3 linked regions of the Homo sapiens genome follow. The protein of the gene in region 2 binds, or shares a complex with, the protein of the main gene of each other region. Each region holds a gene or a part of one and is shown on either strand. Other genes may lie near its edges. A codon is read from its position in the direction of its gene.

Evidence for each region. Proteins that work in one complex are often made in the same cells at the same time.
Region 1: the proteins of H4C15 (region 2) and CHAF1B are in contact, whole or in part, in a cryo-EM structure (PDB 8IQG), measured with the Homo sapiens proteins. Residues at the interface, in NP_001029249.1 of Homo sapiens: Thr72 (codon at 758), Tyr73 (codon at 755), Thr74 (codon at 752), His76 (codon at 746), Ala77 (codon at 743), Lys78 (codon at 740), Arg79 (codon at 737), Met85 (codon at 719), Asp86 (codon at 716), Val88 (codon at 710), Tyr89 (codon at 707), Lys92 (codon at 698), Arg93 (codon at 695), Gly95 (codon at 689), Thr97 (codon at 683), Leu98 (codon at 680), Tyr99 (codon at 677), Gly100 (codon at 674), Phe101 (codon at 671), Gly102 (codon at 668); in NP_005432.1 of Homo sapiens: Lys13 (codon at 2,349), Pro15 (codon at 2,343), Tyr17 (codon at 2,337), Val37 (codon at 2,277), Lys67 (codon at 852), Ala68 (codon at 849), Asn70 (codon at 843), Asp86 (codon at 795), Asp87, Glu130, Asp131, Tyr133, Val149, Asn151, Lys171, Tyr173, Gln175, Asp231, Met233, Lys234, Ser235, Phe236, His347, Thr348, Thr366, Asp367.
Region 3: the proteins of H4C15 (region 2) and TONSL are in contact, whole or in part, in a crystal structure (PDB 5JA4), measured with the Homo sapiens proteins. Residues at the interface, in NP_001029249.1 of Homo sapiens: Lys13 (codon at 935), Gly14 (codon at 932), Gly15 (codon at 929), Ala16 (codon at 926), Lys17 (codon at 923), Arg18 (codon at 920), His19 (codon at 917), Arg20 (codon at 914), Lys21 (codon at 911), Val22 (codon at 908), Leu23 (codon at 905), Arg24 (codon at 902), Asp25 (codon at 899), Ile27 (codon at 893), Gln28 (codon at 890), Glu54 (codon at 812), Gly57 (codon at 803), Val58 (codon at 800), Lys60 (codon at 794), Glu64 (codon at 782); in NP_038460.4 of Homo sapiens: Arg524, Asn526, Asp527, Met528, Glu530, Asp559, Tyr560, Cys561, Trp563, His567, Glu568, Asn571, Tyr572, Gly595, Glu597, Ile599, Asp604, Asn607, Cys608, Gly609, His610, Trp641, Tyr645, Asp648, Leu649, Asp650, Thr653.

Annotation. Positions count from the first base shown.
Region 1 is NC_000021.9:36,381,149-36,388,521, reverse strand, and holds the start of CHAF1B (chromatin assembly factor 1 subunit B), read right to left. Parts: upstream 3,131-7,373; 5' UTR 3,071-3,130; intron 2,463-3,070; 5' UTR 2,386-2,462; coding exon 2,260-2,385; intron 925-2,259; coding exon 792-924; intron 1-791. UniProt on the Homo sapiens protein: Acts as a component of the histone chaperone complex chromatin assembly factor 1 (CAF-1), which assembles histone octamers onto DNA during replication and repair.
Region 2 is NC_000001.11:149,860,161-149,865,974, forward strand, and holds H4C15 (histone H4), read right to left. Parts: upstream 1,000-5,814; 5' UTR 972-999; coding exon 660-971; 3' UTR 604-659; downstream 1-603. UniProt on the Homo sapiens protein: Core component of nucleosome. Nucleosomes wrap and compact DNA into chromatin, limiting DNA accessibility to the cellular machineries which require DNA as a template.
Region 3 is NC_000008.11:144,441,311-144,448,261, forward strand, and holds the start of TONSL (tonsoku-like protein), read right to left. Parts: upstream 3,131-6,951; 5' UTR 3,105-3,130; coding exon 3,080-3,104; intron 2,966-3,079; coding exon 2,870-2,965; intron 2,715-2,869; coding exon 2,572-2,714; intron 2,012-2,571; coding exon 1,828-2,011; intron 1,497-1,827; coding exon 1,367-1,496; intron 1,103-1,366; coding exon 931-1,102; intron 842-930; coding exon 727-841; intron 1-726. UniProt on the Homo sapiens protein: Component of the MMS22L-TONSL complex, a complex that promotes homologous recombination-mediated repair of double-strand breaks (DSBs) at stalled or collapsed replication forks.

The sequences.
Region 1 (7,373 bases), on a different chromosome or scaffold from region 2:
GCACTCCAGCCTAGATAACAGTGAGACTGTCTCAAAAAAAAAAAAAAAAAAAACTCCCAAAGCCAATTAATTACTAACACAGTCCTAAAGCCATTTAATTAATTACACAGAGACACAGAACTGACTCTGATCACCACAGATGTTAAACTAACAATCCAACAAAACCAGAACAGTCGCCTTGCTTGGGATGTGACAGAATGGTAAGTGCCTTTCCATCTCGTCTTAGAACAGCCTGGTGGGAGCTTGCGGGAAAGCAGCTGTTTTCAAACAGGTGTTCCTGGTTTCATCTTGCTGTCCTCCCTCCCTGACTCTACCACATTCCCTAGAACAGTATTTTACTGAACTACCTAAATGACAGATTGAGAGGGTCAGCCACACCTGAACTAAAAAGCATATCCAGGCCGGGCGCAGTGGCTCACGCCTGTAATCCCAACACTTTGGGAGGCCGAGGCAGGTGGATCACCTGAGGTCAGGAGTTCGAGATCAGCCTGACCAACATGATGAAACCCTGTCTCTACTAAAAACACACAAAAAAACTAGCCGGGCGTGGTGGCAGGCGCCTGTAATCCCAGCTACTCAGGAGGCTGAGGCAGGAGAATCGCTTGAACCCAGGAGGCGGAGGTTGCAGTGAGTCGAGTTTGCACCACTGCACTCCAGCCTGGGGAACAAGAGTGAAACTCTATCTCAAAAAAAAAAAAAAAGCATATCCAGCTCAAATCTCACTATCTGACACAAGACACACAGGTATCTATCTGGTTCCCGAAGAATCTCTGAAGGACAGCAATACTCACCATCTCCTCCCGATGCTAAAATTTCCCCAGTTGGAGAAAAACGCACAACATTGACGGCTTTGGTATGACGAGCAAGATTGGACAAAAATTCCACGATGGCTTTTCCATCTGGTCCCTTTTCTACCTTCCAGATCTGTCAATACCAACACATTCATTTGAAAAACATAGAATGGGCACATATTATACTGTCTGTATTAAAACAATACTATGGGCTGGGTGTGGTGGCTCACAACTGTAATCCCAGCAGTTTAGGAGGCCAAGGTGGGTAAATCACTTGAGGCCAGGAGTTCAAGACCAGCCTGGAAACACAGTGAGACCTAGTCTCTACAGAAAATTTAAAAAATTAGCCAAGTGTGATGGCACATGCCTGTAGTTCCAGTTATGCGGGAGGCTTAAGAGGGAGGATCACTTGAGCCCCGGGTCGGGGCTGCACTGAGCCAAGATCAGGCCACTGCACTCCAGCCTGGGCGACAGAGTAAGACCCTGTCTCAAAAAAAAAAAAAAAACAAAACTATGCTTATTTTCAGAAAGAAAACTTAGTTTTTCTTTTGAAACATAAAATCAAAGAACTCCCTATCTAAAACATAAATGTCTACTGTCCCCCTCCGCCTTCTTTCTAGAGCAACTTGTTACCCAGTAGGAACCAGGATCAGGATCCCAAAACAATGAACGTCCAGTTACAATAATCTAGGGAAAATGAATCAAATAAGAAAGCAGAGCCGGGCATGGTGGCTCAGGCCTGTAATCCCAGCACTTTGGGAGGCCAAGGTGGGTGGATCACCTGAGGTCAGGAGTTTGAGACCAGCCTGGCCAACATGGTAAAACCCCATCTCTACTAAAAATACAAAAATTAGCCAGGTGTGGTGATGAGCGGCTGTAGTCCCAGTTATTTGGGAGGCTGAGGCAGGAGAATAGCTTGAACCTGGGAGACAGAGGTTGCAGTAAGTCGAGATTGCACCACTGCACTCCCACCTGGGCAACAGAGCAAGACTCCGTCTCAAAAAAAAAAAAAAGAAAGCAGCTCTCTTTTGCTTTCATTGTTCACCGCAGGCCCTGGAAATTTAGCATTCTGGGCTAGATGACAAAGTAGTTTAGTTTGTTGACATACGTTAATTCATTCATTCATTTACTTAAGAGAAGGGTCTGGCTCTGTCACCCAGGCTGGAGTGCAGTGGAGTGATCGTTGCTTGCTTCAAACTCCTAGGCTCAAGCGATCCTCTCACTTCAACTTCCCAAGTAGCTGGGCCTACAGCTGCACACTGCCACGTCCCGCTACTTTTTCATGTCTGGCTGTTGCCCAGGCTGGTGTCGAACTCCTGGACTCAAGCGATCCTCTCACCTCAGCCTCCCAAAGCACTGGGATTACAGGCGTAAGCCACCGCGCCCAGCCGACACTGGTTTTAAGTAAAAGAATGAAAACTATTGCTTCAAGCAGTGTTCCCGGATGTCTATCTCTGCCCCAGTTTACCCTGACATTGGTGTCCACGCCGGCAGACGCCAGTCTGTGGATCCTCCCAGCCGTCCCATGCTGGAAGTCCAGGCTGTACACGGGCTCCTTGTTGTGCCAGGCTATTTCACAAGTGATGACTTTCATCCTCCTGAGTCTCGAAGGGGAAAAACGTTTCTCGGGCACCGTTCTACTTCTTCAAGACAGGAGAAAGCTGCAAAATGCTGGTGATGGATTAAACAACAGTGTTAACAGCAGCAAAGGGTTATTGAGCGCTGAATAGGGGCCAGGAGCCATTTAAAATGCACACTGCATTGGGAAAGGATGTTAACGTTGCCATCTGACAATAACACCTTGCTAGCTCCACCTAAAATGCTTCGCTGGGTCCTGACATCCACAAGTTTATGATACGCCGCTACATCCAGAAAAGCAAAACGAAACACCCAGGTAAAGGCTACCTAGGGGCCCCGGCCGTCTGCACGGCCTGTCCCCGCTTAGTAGGGGCTAGGGGCGCGCCCTGAGAGCCCGGGGAGGGGCCCGCCCCGGGAGGAGCCTCCCGGAAGAGGGGGCCAAACGGGGTAGGGGACCGGGGCGGCGGGGCGAGAGGAGAACCCCGCCTTTCCCAGGGACCGGGCGCTGGGCCCGGGAAGCTGGGACTGAGGCCGCCGGGAGGAGGCCGCGCGGGGCCGGGGGTGGACGGGGCCCCGCCGCCCCAACGCGCGCCGCTCCGGAGCTATCCCGGGGCCCAGGGGCCCGCCCTCGGCGAGGGCCTCTGGCCCGGACCGACGCGACCAAAAGAGCCGCGGAGCTGCCCGGGCCAGGGAAGCCGTACCTGGAGGGACCCGGACAGTCAGAGGCACCGTCACCTCCCGCGCAGCGCGCGCCGCTTCCCGCGCGCCGCAGGCCCCGCCCCCGCATGGGCGGGACCTCATAGACGCCCCGCCCCTCCAGCGGCCCTCAGGTCCCGCCCGACGTGGGCGGTACCCCAGGGAAGCCCCGCCCACTCATAGACGCCAAGGCGAGTCCTGCTCTGGCCCTGGGGTCGGAATCCCGGCCGGAATTTATGCCTGCCAGACCCACGACCGAAGGAAGAATGGATTCATTATTATTTATTATTATTATCCATTACTTATTCCTTGTTGATTCGCTCTTTTAGCAAAGGTTTACAGAGCCTGGGCTGTGTGTTAGACAGACCCTATGCTGGCGCTGGGCACTTGGAGGGCTAACACAACCGGTTCTCTTGCCCCTTCTGCAAACAAAAACTGAGATTTTTGGGTTTTCTGTATTGGCTTCTAGAACATTTTGGAGAGTTCAAAGCTATGAAATTGTTCAGTACCTAGCGCAAGGTTGCTTACATTTTATTATTATAGTAGATGCAGTTATAAACCCTTTTTAAGAACAGACTAACATTTTAAAGTGAGGCTGTAAATCAGTCGGTAGGCAGAGATAGATACCTCAGGCTTTTCGAAATGGGACGTTTCCAAATGAGACCTAATTTATCTGTGGGCTTCGCAGAAGGCCAGGAAACAAGTACCTCTGGATGCGCTGCTTTTACTGGATAAAAGAAACACACAGGGTTATCTGAGGAGCCAACTGCTCTAGGATTTTTGGAAAAAAAGAACAGACATGGATTCTTATATAAATACCGGCTGATGCTTTTAGCCAGCTTTATGAAAGGTACAGAAATTGCCTACAAATCCGTGTCTCATGTTGATGAGAATGGCTGTATGCTCCTTGAAGCCTGATTTCTACAGGAAGCTAGAATAACATAATCCGGATATGCAGTTTTTAGATTTTTCTCTTCAGGATTTACAGAGCTTGGACTGGGAATGACTATATACTTTAGATAATATGGCTGTTCTAAAAGTACAGATTCCTGGCCCTACTCAGCCCCATGATTCCGAATATCCAGCAGAGGCCCGTGCTCCAGGGGCTTGCATTTTCATAAACTCCCCGGTGGGTGTGATCATCAGTCTGTTTTGGAAAGCTCTGGATTCTTCGTGTCTCTCAAACATAAAATTTCTCCAAATTTCTCATAAATGCTGTTCATTCACAAATGAATAATCTGCCCACCTCTTGAAGTGTCACGACTCTGAACTGTGGATTTAAAAGATAAAAACACATGCTTTAAGTATTAAAAGTACATGAAGGAGTTGGCTTTCTTGGCGAACATTTTAGAGATCCGACTTCAGTGCCAACTTGATGAGCCAACACGGGCAGGGGATGCGGCTCTAGAGAGAGGCCCTGGGCTGTCAAATATTTTCTCAAAAAAAAAAAAAAAAGTATTTGTTCAAAACCTCAAAGTTTGCACCACAAATGTTGGACTAAAGAATTCCTGCCGGTCGCGGTAGCTCACGCCTGTAATCCCAGCACTTTAGGAGGCCGAGGTGGGCGGATCATGAGGTCAGGAGATCGAGGCCATCCTGGCTAACATGGTGAAACCCCATCTCTACAAAAATTACAAAAAATTAGTCGGGCGTGGCGGCGGGCGCCTGTAGTCCCAGCTACTCGGGAGGCTGAGGCAAGACAATGGCGTGAACCCGGGAAGCGGGGCTTGCAGTGAGCCGAGATCGTGCCACTGCACTCCAGCCTGGGCGAGAGAGCGAGACTCTGTCTCAAAAAAAAAAAAAAAAAAAAAAAAGGGAATTCCTATAACGCAATTCTAACTAGATTCCTCAACAACCACTGTTGTTCAGCTTGGGCCCCAAGCATCCATTTTGAGCAGAACTGCCTCAATTTAAGGGGACCAATGTTATTTGGTTCCTGAGAACTTTTTAATAATGAAAATTGATATAAAGGGACTAACTCTTAACTCAGCTTCGAAAAAAAACTTCTCAAGGCATTTTAATTTCCATTTGTAAGTGTGAACATTCTAAAATCAAAATCTGAGCCGGGCATGGTGGCTCACATCTATAATCCCAACGCTTTGGGAGGCCAAAGCAGGCAGATTGCTTGAGGCTAGGAGTTCCAGACCAGCCTGGCCAACATGGCAAAACCCCTTCTCTATAAAAATACAAAAACTATACAGAGTGGTAGTGTGTGCCTGTAATCCCAGCTACTCGGGATACTAGGGAGGCTGAGGCAAGAGAATCCATTGAACCCGGGACTTGGAGGTTGCAGTGAGCTGAGATGGCACCACTGCACTCCAGCCTGGGTGGCAGAGTGAGATTCTGTCTCAAAAAAAAAAAAAAAAAAAGCTTTGATAACAGACATACAAAATTCAGTACAGGGTTGGAAAAAAATGTTGAGCAAATATCAGAATAAGAAAACTAGGAGAAGCCAGGCGTAGTGGCTCACGCCTGTAATTGCAGCATCTGGGAGGCTGAAGCGGGCGGATCACTTGAGGTCAGGAATTTGAGACCAGCCTGGCCAACATGGTGAAACCCCATCTCTACTAAAAATAGAAAAAATAGGTCAGGCGCGGTGGCAGGCACCTGTAATCCCAGCTACTCAGGAGGCTGAGGCCAGAGAATCGTTTCAACCTGGGAGGCGGAGATTGCAGTGAGCCGAGATTGCGCCATTGCACTCCAGCCTGGGCAACAAGAGCAGAACTCCATCTCAAAAATAATAATAATAATAATAATAATAACAGCCAGGCATGGTGGTGGCGCCTGTAATCCCAGCTACTCGGAGGCTGAGGCACTAGAATCACTTGAACCCAGAGGGCAGTGAGCCAAGATCATGCCACTGCACTCCAGTCTGGGCGACAGAAACAGACTCAGTCTGAAAAAAAAAAAAAAAAAAAGAAAGAAAAAGAAAAATAGAAATGACGGAAATCAATACAGGAGATTGAGAACAACGGGACCTCTGGCACACTACTGGTGGAAGTGTAAACTGATGTAAATACTTTAGAAAACTGTTCAGCACTGTCTAATAAAGTTAATGATACGCCTACCCTATGACTCAGCAATTCCACTCCTTGGCATATATATCAGGAAAACAAAAGCAAACTCATACAAGAATCATTATCCATAATAGCCCCAAACTAGAAAGACACCAAATGTCCACCCACAGGAGAAAAGGTAATCAGACTGTGCCATATTCATACCACGGTATTCTACTCGGTAATCCAAAAGAAATACTGTGATAGTTAATTTTATGCCTCAGTTTGCCCGGGCTAAGACATACCCGATAGGTGGTCAACATTACTTCTGACTATGAGGGTGTTTCTGGAAGACTTTAGCATTTGAATCAGTAGACTGAGTACAGAAGATCCGCCCTCACCAACCTGGGCAGTATCTGGGGCATCATCCAACCTGTTGAGTCTGAAAAGAACAAAAAGTAGAGGAAGGGCAAATTCTGTCTCTTCTTGAGTTGGGACATCCTCTTCCACCCTCAGACATCAGAGCTCCTGGTTCTCAGGTCTTTTGACTCCAGGACTTATGCCACTGGTGTCCCTGGTTCTCAGGGCTTTGGAGTGGGACTAAGTTATACCACAGGCTTTCTTGGGTCTCCATCTTGCAGACAGCAGATCATGGGACTTCTCAGACTCCATAACCACTTAAGCCACTCCTCCTGATCAATCTCTTGCATCTATCATATTGGGCTCCGATTTTCTGGAGAACTCTACACTGACTGACACAGGCAGCAACATGGATGTGTGTGATGCACACAAGGAGTTATTATTTCAAGTGATTGGCAAACACAGAAATTTTATACTACCCCAAAGAAAGCTTACCTTCAGTCATACTATGGCTAGAAAATATTGGTATTGTTACATATATGCATACCTATGTATTTATGTATACATTAGGAAGAGCAAATACTTGTGTGGTTAGGAACCCAGATTTTCAGCAAAAGAGACTATATTATAGTCTCTTTTAGTTCAGTCTACTAAAAAGGCCTAGAAATGCCCAAACTAGGCCAGGCACAGTGGCTTATGCCGGTAATATCAACATTTTGGGAGGCTGAAGCAGGAGGATCACTTGAGCCCAGGAGTTCAAGACCAGCGTGGGCAACGTAGCAAGACTCCGTATCTAGAAAAAAAAAAAAAAAATCAGCCAGGCATGGTGGCATGCACCTATAGTCCCAGGTACTTGGGAGGCTGAGGAAGGCGAAGCACTTGAGCCCAGGAGTTTGAGGATGTAGTGAGCTATGATTATGCCATTGTACTCCAGCCTGGGCAACAGAGCAAG
Region 2 (5,814 bases):
TTTTTTAACTGTGCTAAGATTGAGCTGAGTGCGTGGCTGGAGACACCACACAACACGGACCCTTGCTAAGGCATCTAGTCCACCCGCTTGTTATGTAGAGGGTGAAATGAAGCCCAAAACAGTCAATCGTGAACTCTAAGCCGATCAGGTGGGAAAGCCGGCATCTCTAGAATGAAAACCTAAGGCTGCTTCTCCCACTTTGCCTGAGCAAATATAGTGAGATTACACAGCAAGGCATGTGTAAATTGCCAGTGCCTATTTCTCAGAACCAGATTTGGTGATCGCAAAGACTGACGTGGCCCTCTAGGTGTGCCTATACTGCACCAGAAGAGCAAGCCGAGAAAGCAGTGCTCAAACCTAGAGCATTCAACCTTTCATACCGATAAAGGCTTTAAAAAAAAAAAAAAAAAAAAAAAAAGCCCAGGTAAGTGAAAAAGCCGCTTTCGGTCAACGACTTAAGTCTTTACGGCTGTGAGCGCTATGGGCCGCGGTAGCTTTCCGTTAACTTCAGATCCGATTGTCGCCCCACTGCCAAAGTTACCTTCCAACATCGTTACTGTTGCACTTTACGCAGTCAAGTGTCCAACTCCTCAGATGAGCAAGTGGTCGGCCCTAAAAAGGGCCTTTGGGATCGAAACGTGCAAAGCTGGAGCGGCGGCCTAGCCTCCGAAGCCGTACAGGGTGCGCCCCTGGCGCTTGAGCGCGTACACCACATCCATGGCTGTGACGGTCTTGCGCTTGGCGTGCTCGGTGTAGGTGACTGCGTCCCGAATCACATTCTCCAGGAACACCTTCAGCACACCGCGGGTCTCCTCGTAAATGAGGCCAGAGATCCGCTTAACGCCGCCACGCCGAGCTAGACGCCGAATGGCAGGCTTGGTGATGCCCTGAATGTTGTCTCTCAAGACCTTGCGGTGGCGCTTAGCGCCCCCTTTGCCTAAGCCTTTTCCGCCCTTTCCTCTGCCGGACATGACCGCTGGAGCCCGATAGACAGCTTCTGTCAAGGCGAGCACCGTCTTCCCCTGATATACAAGAGTATCGGACCAGATTGAAAACCGAAAGCGCGCCGGCGGGAAGCGTTCTCAATTGTCCCCGCCCTCTCGACATTTCGTCATTTCTTTTCTGTTTTCCTCTCCCTCCTCCTCCACTCTGCTCAGGTCCCTCTCACTCTTTTTTTTTTTTAACCGCTACGCCACAGTCCCCGGGAGAATTCAGATCCCAACCGGGGCTTCCGGATTCTGTAGTGGCTTTGGCCTGTGTCTGGTCTGAGGACGCCCGGAAGGCATTGCACTGAGGCTAAGGGAAAGGTCTCTGGAGGGAGCCTCAGGAAGAGCAAATGGAGGCCAGAGACTGGCAGGAGCGCGCCAGCGCAGGATTTAATCCCGACGAGCGGATTCAGAGCCGTGCTTATATAAAGCTTCAGGAAGCGCCGTTCCGACGATGAGGTCGACACGCGAGAGGCGACCTCAAGAGCGGCGGCGCCAGGGATCTGTGCGCCAAGGGAGGACGGGAGGGAGCAGGTTCGCCATAATTCCTGGCTCCAGGCTCTGTTTTGTTGGACCGAGCCACTGTATTTTAGCTCACACAGGAGAATTCTGGCCCTGGGAAAATTGGTCTCAGCATGCTGCCAAGCTTTCTCATGGACGTCAGCGAATCCCAACACACTGTCGGTCAAAGCCGTGCTGGAAGAAACAAAACAGTTCTCCCTCGGTAGAACTGAGAGGGGATTGGTCCAGGGCCCCCGCCGATACCAAAATCCAGGTTGCTCAAGTCTCTCATAGAAAGTGGCGTAGTATTTGCACATAACTATGCACATCCTCCCGTGTACTTTAAATAGTCTCTAAATTACTTCGTAACACCTAATCCAGTGTAAATGCTATGTAAGTAATTGTTATACTGTTTTTATTTTTACTATCTTTTGTTGTACTTTTTTTTAAAAAAGAAATTCATTTGTTTAATATTTTCGGTCTTGGGGAACCCGCGTATATGGAGGGCCTGCTACATAGAGAAGACTGAGGGATATTCTGTGCATCCGTTTCTACGGATCCTCTAAATCGGCCTTTGTTTTCAGCCAGGATTTAGTGCCCAGCTGTGTCCTTTGGAGGCCCCACATGGAGCTAGCAAAGTTTGCTAAATCGGGTTTTGCAAGAGGACTGTCTGCTCCATACTGGGAGTAGTTACCGCAAACTGCCCTATGAAATTGGTTGGGGTTCTTACTGTTAGCATGTTTATTACTTTATCAGGGCTCTCTGTAGGAGAGTCTATGAGAAAATCTTCTGGTTTCTGCTGAAAGAATCGTGTTTTGTTGGGGTTTTTTTCCCGAAAAATATTATTTTTAAAAACTCTTCTGTGCCCTGTTTAATCTCTCCCTTGGATCCACCTTCTGTGTGCTCATAAATCGTAAATCTGTATTCAGACTTCTGGACTCGAGACACGTAGATCCACCTGGTGGTTCTTCAGTCATTTTAAGCCCAAAACTCAAAATCTCCCGAAATCAAAATGTTTAAACTTATAATCTCCAGGGTGTGACTCACGGGGGATGAGGGGAGCAATTCTCTCCCTCCCCGCATAAAGCTGGTTCTCCTGTCTGCTCATTGAACGGTTCCACTGCGCATCACAGCATCTACATGCCTAAACCAACACCCCAGCATTGGCAACAGATATCTTCCTCTCCCTTGGCTGCTTCAGGACAGGGAAGAAACATGCTTGCCCTTTTCTGACTCTTTAGTAACTCTGGCCGAATCTATCACATTATTTTACATCTCTTTACATCTTACTACTCCCCCATCTTGGCTGTGTGTTCCCTACTGGCAGTGATTTTTGTTTATTCATTTTTGTAAACTGACACTTAGTTCAGTGTCCAATATAAGCTCAACAATAGTTTATAAAAGGAAAAGTTCCTGCCTTTGATTGCTTTTAAACACTATTAGAAAAGACATAACCAAATTGCAACATGATAAAACAACCGCAAAACAAGGCTGAGAGAAGTGGTGATTTCTGGTGTCAGAGGGCACAGGACCCTGGGCAGAATCAGAGATACGGTGTCTGTGCAGTTCCCTTTTTAAGGGGATCAGGACATGCTACCTCCAAATGTGCCAGTTTCGACTTAAGAATTATTTTCAGCTGAAACAAACAGCTAAAATCCCTTACCTGTTTAATAGCAGATCCTCCTCGCAAATCTCAAATTTTTAACTCAGTTGTCATAAATCTTCTTCAGCACTAGAAGCAAATCTAACCTCGGAGATGAGAAGTGGTCACCACACCCAAATAGACATTGTCACAAGACTCGAATCTTCCATCTATTCTAAGGGCCCATTTATCTTTTCAAAAGTCATTTGGTTTTCCATATGTCCTTTACTCCTCCTCCTTTTCCCCTGCTGCTAGGTAGATCCCAAATTCTAACCACTCCTTTGAGTTACTCATCACAGAGTGCTCCCATGTATACACTTTTTTTTTTTTTGTTTGACTCAGGGTCTTACTCTGTCACCCAGGCTGGAGTGCAGTGGTGCAATCTCAGTTTAAACCCCCAAGTCTGTGGTATTTTGTTATAGTCCCCCTAGAAATTAATACAGGATTCATGGTCTGCCAAAGTCTCATTCCCTGCTCAGACCGACAATGGATAGTGGGATCCTTTGTGATATGTGCTCTGTGAGTTAGAAGTAGTAACTTAGAGCTGTTGAGGACAATACCTTTGCACCCCATCCACTGAATTTTGTTTTCAAAGATACAGTCTGAAACTCCCAGAGGGTGAGTGCCTTTCCAGTGTGTCAGAGCCATTAGTGGCTGAGCAGACCGCTGAGCATGTAGATTTCTAGGTCAGGGCCCTCTCCCCAAAGAATCATACTCCCTGGTTGAACTGAACCTAAATCAGGTTTAAAACTAGACAGATGCCAACCAACTTAAAATTCCAAAGATATCCAAGACCTGCCCATGGCCCTGGGATTTGAGGACAACGTGTGCATGTCATGGCTATGGCAGTTCAGGGGTCTCTAGCTTAGTGGGAATGTCTATGTCCTACCTTGACCCTTCTGAGTCTTCCGCCCGCATCTGCCCCTCCTATGACAATGGAGTATTCATTCCCCAGATACAGCACCGTGAAAGAGAGGCAGGAACACTGGATAGTCTAAGACCTGGTCTTTCTTGGCTGGTGTGAGACAGTGGAGGCCTCACTACTTGGTCTTTTCTGGTGTACTGTCAAAGGTTGAAGCTGGGGCCTTGTGACTGCCTCCTGTTCTCTGTTCCAGGGATGCTACACAATAGAAGCTCTGGGCCTTGACCATGGAAAGGTCCCATGAATTCTCCACTCAGCCCAACTGAGCCCCCTGCTCTCACACTGGGTGAGGAAACGATAGGCAGTGCGAACAGGTGTATGCACACTCACTGAGGAAGTGCAGCCTGTCTGACCCACTCTCTCTCACCCAGCCTAGGGTCAGGCCATGGCAGGACACTGTTTCCTTAACTATCAGCAGCCATCTTGGGGATTTCCCCACAGGGCCAGGGCAACAGAATCTGCTTCTCACTGTGACCATGGTCTGGAAGGACCATGAGGAATTCTCCAGTGCTGTCGGGGTTTCCGATACTGACACAGACAATTTAGTAACAGCTTTGACACCTTTTGGTAATAGGACAAAGTTAACACTCCTGCCACTATCCTGTGAAGGCCAACCTTCCTAGGCCCCATAGGAAACTTTTGGAATGTCTTTGTTGGGTTGAGAAACTGGGGCAAAGTAGTACCCAATTTTTTCATGTCAATATCAAAATGTAATCATTTCAGGTACACAGAGTTCCGCACTTTCAGATTAGTCTTAAAGAAAAGAAAATCGCCGGGAACGGTGGCTCGTGCCTGAAATCCCGGCACTTTGGGAGGCCGAGGCGGACGGATCACCTGAGGTCAGGAGTTCCAGACCAGCCTGACCAACATGGTGAAACCCCATCTCTACTAAAAATACAAAAAAAAAAAAAAAAAAATTAGCCGGGCTTGGTGGCGGGCGCCTGTAATCCCACCTACCCAGGAGGCTAAGCTGACAGGAGAATCGCTTGAACCCGGGAGGTGGAGGTTGCAGTGAGCTGACATCGCACCATTGCACTCCAGCCTGGGCGACAAAAGCGATACTCCATCTCAAAAAAAAAGAAAATCAAGTAAAGAGCAATTCACATTCTCTTGAAAATTCTCATTATGTCCAGCTGGTTCCGGGGAAAGCCTACCATGAAAGTGGTATTGTTACTTAGACTTAGGGTCCTTTGATCAGAATTGATGATGTCCTCAGCTAAGTCAGTGCTAGGAGTGGGCAGAGATGAAGTGATGGATGTGACAGAGTTGTAGAATATAGATTTAATAAGATTTGGTGTTTTAGGGCGGGGCGTGATGGCTCATGCCTGTAATCTCAGCACTTTGTGAGGCCAAGGTGGGCCGATCACATGAAGTCAGGAGTTCGAGACCAGCCTGGCCAACACAGTGAAACCTCCTCTCTGCTAAAAATACAAAAATTGACCGGGCGTGGTGGCTGACACCTGTAATCCCAGCACTTTGGGAAGCCAACGCGGGTAGATCACGAGGTCAGGAGATCGAGACCATCCTGGCTAACACGGTGAAACCCCGTCTCTACTACATATACAAAAAATTAGCCGGACGTGGTGGCGGGTGCCTGTAGTCCCAGCTACTCAGGAGGCTGAGGCAGGAGAATGGCGTGAACCCGGGAGGCGGTGCTTGCAGTGAGCTGAGATCGCACCACTGCACTCCAGCCTAGGCAACAGAGCAAGACTCCGTATCAAAAAAAAAAAAAAAAAAAAGAAAGAAGAAAGAAAGAAAGAAAG
Region 3 (6,951 bases), on a different chromosome or scaffold from region 2:
GGCCAGGTACAGTGGCTCACGCCTGTAATCCTAGGACTTTGGGAGGCCGAGGCGGGCAGATCATGAGGTCAGGAGATCGAGACCATCCTGGCTAACATGGTGAAACCTCGTCTCTACTAAAAATACAAAAAATCAGCCGGGTGTGGTGGCGGGCACCTGTAGTCCCAGCTACTCGGGAGGCTGAGGCAGGAGAATGGCATGAACCCGGGAAGCGAAGCTTGCAGTGAGCCGAGATCATGCCACTGCACTCCAGCCTGGGTGACAGAGCGAGACTCCGTCTCAAGAAAAAAAAACAACACAACATGGATGGTGCCTGGCTCAAAGTAAGGGCTGACGGCTGCCAACCTCCAATGGTGGTCTCTGCCATCAGCACTCCTGGACCACGCGTGCCATCTCCTCTCCCACCCTGGGAGGCTAGGGGTACAACTACTGTCTCCAGTTTGCCAATGAAGATGGTGGCTGCGAAATAAAAGCCCAGCTGGTCTCCTGGCCGCCCTTTCATTGCCCCTGACACACTGTGTTGAGCTCAGAGAAAAAAGGGGGTCTTCTCCTGTCAGGAAGTAGGGGTACCTGCCCCTCTTGCTGAAGCTGCTGCCTCCAAGGACAGGTGCTCAGGCCTCCTCTGTGAGGGAGAGAGCCCTGTACACACCTGGCGGGACTCCACCCCGCCCCCAGGCTCACCCCTGCACACACCTCCCAGGGCCCCATTCGCACCCCCAGGCTCACCATGCTGGAGGTTCTGACAGATGGCTGCCCTCTGCACAGGCTTCTGGGAGCCCAGCCTGTAGGCCTTCTTCAGGGCTCGCTTGGCAGCCAAAAAGTCTCCCAGGTCTTGGAGGACCTGGAGAGCAAAGGACAGCAAAGGTTTTGCAGAATCCCCAAGGCCCGAATCTACGAGAGCCTGAGCTCGGAGCCACGCACAGCGGGTACCTGTGCAATAACCACGCAGCACTCGCTCTCCATGAACCGCTTCCTCATGGTGTGCGCACACTCCCGGGCACCCTCCAAGCAGCGCATAGCCTGGGAGTGCTGGCCCGCGCGCCAGTGGATGGTGCCCAGGTTGTAGCGGGCGCGGAATAGGTCCTCGTAAAGGTGGTTCTGCCTGCAGAGGGGTGACGACCACTGAGCACCCAGGAGTGTCCATGACAGCTGCTGATGCCACACGGGCCCCAGCCCTGCCATGCTGTGGTCTCAGGGCCCTAACCATGCCTGGCCTTCTCCCAGTGTGTGGCACAGGTGTGAGAGGTGGGGGGATGAGGCCCAGCCAGACTGCTCTCTCAGGAGGACTCTGGGAAAAATACTCCCCTAACTACTTCCTCCAGGAACAAGGGACTCCACTCCCTCCTGGGGCGGGGCAGGGCCTTACTCCGCAAGGAAGATGCTCTTCCTGAAGTAATCGTTGCACAGGGCTGTCTGCTGCAGGCTCTCAAAGGTGAGGCCCAGGTTGAGATAGAGGCGGGTCCTCATCTCATTCAGCTCTCCCTGGGCCAGTGTCCCTGGAAGATACCCCCCCAAACACTCAGCCACTTCCTCCCCACATGGGGTTTCCAGCTTTGGGCCCCATTTGGGGCCTGTGCAGCGCCTCTCCTACCCCCTCCCTCCTCCCGAGGTGGGTGCAAGTGTCCTGCGGCAGATGGAGCACAGAGTGGATAAAGAGCTGACGATCTCCAGGGGAAAGGTTGAGCGGGGCATGCACCCCTCACACAAGAGCCTTGCAAAGGGAGGGCTCCAGAAGACGGGATTGCCCAAGGAGGCTGCGGGGGTGCTGGGCTGCAGCCTCTTCGGCCCGAAGTTCAGGAGGCAGAAAACGCGGAGGGGTCTGCCCACCCTCCAGCTCCTCATCCACAATAGCCAAGCTCTTCTCAAAGGCAGCCTGTGCCTGCAGCAAAGCATCCCTCGACTGGCAGTGGTCATAGATGTCCAGGTGGGTGCGGCCGATGGTGGCCCAGGCCCTCTGCAGCTCCGTGTGGTTGCGCAGGGAATGTGCCAGCTCCAGGTACTGGTGCTGGTGCTGAGTGTGGAAGGAAGTCACTGCTGTGAGCCGACTCCGCCTCAAGCAAACCGGCACCGCCAGATTCCCAGAGACCCTGTTCTTGCTAAGGAAAGAGCCTGCTCCCCCTAACCCCCACAGAGCAGGCCAAGGCCAGACACGTGCCCCTCCTCTGCATGCCAAGGGCTCTCTGTGGTGACAGTGGCTTCACGCTGTATGCAGCCAACGCTGTCACGTGGGGAGGGGCAGCTGGGAGTTGGCGGGGGGGTTGCAGTCCTGCCTCCAGCAGCCAGGGTCAGGGAGAGCTTTTGGGATGGGGCCTGACCTCCCCCAACACAAACACAGCTAAAATAACGTTCAGTAATGGTTTCTGGTGCCAGGAAACCTACTCCTGCCCCAGTCCCAGGAAAGGCTGTGGGGTCCCCACCGGAGGACTGGCCCGGGGCGGTGAAGGCAAGGCTGCGTCAGGTCAGGTGTCCCCTCCAGCCCGAGGCTCCTGACGGCGAAGACCAGGCCTCCCTCCTCAGAAAAGGGCTCCAGAGGCCGACCGGGCTGGACGAGGCCAGTGAGGGCGCCCGCACCTGCAAGGCAGCCGGGTAGTCCTCCATCTCGGCCAGGCGCTCTCCGATCTTGCGGTGGGCCACGGCACAGCCCAGAGGGTCGTCAGCGCGCTCCCGAAGCTGCAGCTCCTGCCAGTGCTGCTCCAGAGCCTCGGCGTAGCGGCCTAGGCGGGGGCACAGCACGGCCTGGCAGGCGTCGCGGGTGCGAGGGCGGCCCTGGGGCGGCGTCTGCCGGAAGAGCCCGTCGCCCCCCGGCCCCCGATCCCGGCCCGGGCCCGGGCCCCGGCCCTGCCTCCCGCCTCCTGGTCCCGGCGCTCACCATGGCCGGCCAGGAGCTCCCCCAGCTGGTGGCACAGCGCGGCCTCTTCGCGCCGCTGCCCGGCCCTCTGCGCCTTGGCTTTCGCCTTGCTCAGCTCTGTGGGAGGAAGAGGAGGGCTGGGCCTCCGCGGCGGGGTCCGGGGCCGGGGCCGAGTCCCAAGCCCTCCCCAGCCTCCGCGCCCCCGGAGGAAGGGGTCCCCGAGGAACTTACGGCGAAGCTCGCGCTCCAGGCTCATGCTCGGATCGCCGCGGGATCCGGACTTCCCGCGCTGCGCCGCGGCCCCGCCCCTCGCCGCCGACACGCAGGCCCCGCCCCTCGCCGCCGACACGCAGGCCCCGCCCCTCGCCGCCGACACGCAGGCCCCGCCCCTCGCCGCCGACACGCAGGCCCCGCCCCTCGACGGCGGCGGCGGGCGCGGGGCATTCCGGGAAGTACGGTCGGCCCGCCCGCGGCATCCTCGGAGTTCTCGTGCGGGAGGAGCTGGGGCGGGGTGGCGGCGACAACTGGGGCGTCCCACCCTAGGGGCCGTCTTCCCGGACGCCGGGTTGGCCCGCGCGTGGAGCCCTCTGCCCGGCCCGGGGAGTGCCTGGTGGGGACCCCGTTCCTCCTCGTAGGCGGCGGGGACGCGGGAGGCCGGGGGCCCGGAGCCAGCCCGTCCGGGGTCGCAGCGCGCCCTGGGTGGGGTCTTCTGGGCTGCAGCCCCCGTGCCGCCCGCGCTACTCATGGTGGACGAGCTGTGCCGCCGCCCCAATTCCTCCCGAAATTCACACACACAGCCTGCTCACAGGCGCAACTATTAAAAACGAACGTAGTGTCCAGATAGACTGACGATAAATTCACGAGCATTTGGCTGTGGGGACGTAATAAGGTGTCAGGCGCGCTCCTCCTCCGCAGAACGCAGCTGGGTCACATTTGGGGACTCGGCCCCAAGGACTGTTTTGGGAGGGGAATGTGCTTTCCATAGTGAACAAGTATTGTTTCAGCAATGTGTATGCCAGCTGTATTCTCGGAAGAGTCAGTGAACCTGTGCTTCAGCTGCAGAAGTAGCCCGGGCACAGTGGCCCGCACTGTAATCCGAGCGCTATGGGAGGCCCGGTCAGGAGGATCGCTTGAGCCTAGCAGTACGAGACCAGCCTGGGCAACATAGTGAGGCCCCATCTTTCGTGTGTGTGTGTGTGTGAGACGGAGTCTCGTTCTGTCACCCAGGCTGGCGTGCAATGGTGTGATCTCGGCTCACCACAACCTCCGCCTCCCGAGTTCAAGCGATTTTCCTGCCTCAGCCTTCCAAGTAGCTGGGACTACAGGCGCGTGCCAGCATGCCCGGCTAATTTTTGCATTTTAGTAGAGACGGGGTTTCACCATGCTGGCCAGGCTGGTTTCAAACTCCTGACCTTGTGATCCGCCCACCTCGGCCTCCCAAAGTGCCGGTATTACAGGTGTAAGCCACCATGCCCAGCCCGATACCCCATCTTTATTTAAAAAAAAGAAAGGGAGGGAGGGAGGAAAAGAAAGAAAGGAAGAAAGAGAGGGCCGGGCGCAATGGCTCACCCCTGTAATCCCAGCACTTTGGGAGGCTGAGGCAGGCAGATCATGGGGTCAGTGGATCGAGACCATCCTGGCTAACACGGTGAAACCCCATCTCTACTAAAAATACAAAAAATTAGCCGGGCGTGGTGGCGGGTGTCTGTAGTCCCAGCTACTGGGGAGGCTGAGGCAGGAGAATGGCGTAAACCCGGGAGGCAGAGCTTGCAGTGAGCGGAGATGGCGCCACTGCACTCCAGCCTGGGCAACAGAGCGAGACTCTTGTCTCAAAAAAAAAAAAAAAAAGGAAGAAAGAGAGAAAACAACTGCAAAATTATGTCTAGAATCCTGTGACATGGGGCACCCAGGCCTCTAAAATACCCTTGCTATCCCCCATTACCTTGAGGACCAAACACCTGCCATGCCTTGGGTATCTGACTCCCGGCTACACAGCACACCCAGCACTGCACTCAGGTGCAGTGGCTGGTTTCCCAGAGGCCCCAGAGGAGGCTGGGTGCACAGAGTCCAACTGAGGAGCCTCAGGAGTGGAAGATAGATGAGTTAATTTCCATCGTAATTACAGCAAGTCGTTGGGCAAAACTCAGCCAGAGAGATCTGTTGGGGAGAGAGTGGTGTGATGCACTGACAGGTCCCTGGGTCCAGTAAAGGCTGCTGGAGCCCTCCTCAGGCTGACGGCAGAGCGCTGGCCTCCTGGCGTGGCCCCTGGACTGGGCAGATTTGGGCCTCGGTGCCTCCAAGGCTGCAGGGGTGGGACCAGGCCAAGCCTGCACACCTGTGCAGTCACAAGCTGCAGGAGGCAGGAAATCCAGGCAGGCCTGGGTGTGAGGACAGGTTGTGGAGGTCTGCACTGCCAACCCCTTGCCCATCCAAAGCATGGCTCTGAGCCAAGGCAACTACTTGGAGGGCAAGCTGGTGAGGTGTGTGAGGGGCACAGTGAGGCTTGAGGGAGGGAGTGGGGAGTGAGATTCAGAATCAGAGGACTCAGATGAACAGCTGAAGACAGGGTGGCTTGGACACCAGAGGGGCTCCCTGAGCTACCTGGACAACGATTAAGTATCCCCTTCAGCCCCAGGGTCCACAGGACAGCCCAGCTCCTGGAAGCCGAATTCCCCTTCAGAGACAACCCAATTTCTCTCTTTTTTTTTTTTTTTTTTCCGAGACAGAATTTTGTTCTTGTTGCCCAGGCTGGGGCACAATGGCGTGATTCTGGCTCACTGCAACCGCCTTCTCTCAGGTTCAAGTGATTCTCCTGCCTCAGCCTCTTGAGTAGCTGGGATTACAGATGCCCACCACCACGCCCAGCTAATTTTTGTATTTTTGTAGAGACAGGGTTTCACCATGTTGGTTAGGCTGGTCTCGAACTCCCAACCTCAGGTCATCCACCCGCCTCAGCCTCCCAAAGTGCTGGGATCACAGGCGTGAGCCACCATGCCCGGCTGACAACCCAATTTCTCTGTGCCTGTTTCCCCAGTAACCAGACAAGGTACACACGTCAGGCAGTGCTGTGCAGGGCTGCAGGCCTGGTGCAGATTGCCACAGGCTGAGGGCAGCAGGGGAGGCCAGCAGAGCCCAGAAGGCCCAGCTGTGTGTCTGTCTTCTGGTAAGGAAACACAGACAAAACATGGGTTGGAATATTTTTTTAAACTACAGTTGTTACATACAGAAAATATCCAAAGAGAACGCAGACCACAAAAGTGACACATAAGTCATTTCCAACAATGGTAAAAACACTTCTTGCTCTGCTCTTTAAAAAATTATTATTTTTTTGAGACGGAATCTCGCTTTGTCACCCAGGCTGCAGTGCAGTGGCACAATCTCAGCTCACTGAAACCTCTGCCTCCTGGGTTCAAGCGATTCTCCTGCCTCAGCCTCCTGAGTAGCTGGGATTACAGGCGCGCGCCACCACGCCCAGCTAATTTTTGTATTTTTAGTAGAGATGGGGTTTCACCATGTTGGTCAGGCTGGTCTCAAACTCCTAACCTCAGGTGATCCGCCCGCCTCGGCCTCCCAAAGTGCTGGGATTATAGGCGTGACCCACCGTGCCTGGCCTATTTTTATAAATGAGGGATGTGGTGCTCACCAGGGGGTGGGGATGAGACAAGGGAGGGAGAAGGGTGGGGCCTGGCTTAGGCTATGCCCCCCACATCTGCGGAGTGTGGACCCCCACGCCCCCATCCTCAGAGAAGACAAAGGAGCAGGTCGGGACGTCAAGATGTCTCAGGGTCTTGGACACAAGCCGTGTGTTTGGCGGTCCTGTCATGTGTGGCCCACGTTGGCAACGCCACGGGAAGCCCGTGCTCCAGTTCCCGGTGGCCGAGGACCCACCGTGGTCCTCCCAGGTGCCTGGCTCCCCCAGGCCATAAGGCTCAGCTGCTGCATGTCATGGTCACAGGGCAGATGCCTGCTGAGTACGCTGGGCCGCACTTGCAGACTTGAGGCACCCACATCCCACATCTGGAAGGGCCTTGTGTGGACACTGCCCTTGCCCTCAGGCCAGCCCCTCCCATCCTGAACTCCCACAGGGCTGGTTGCCCCGGGAC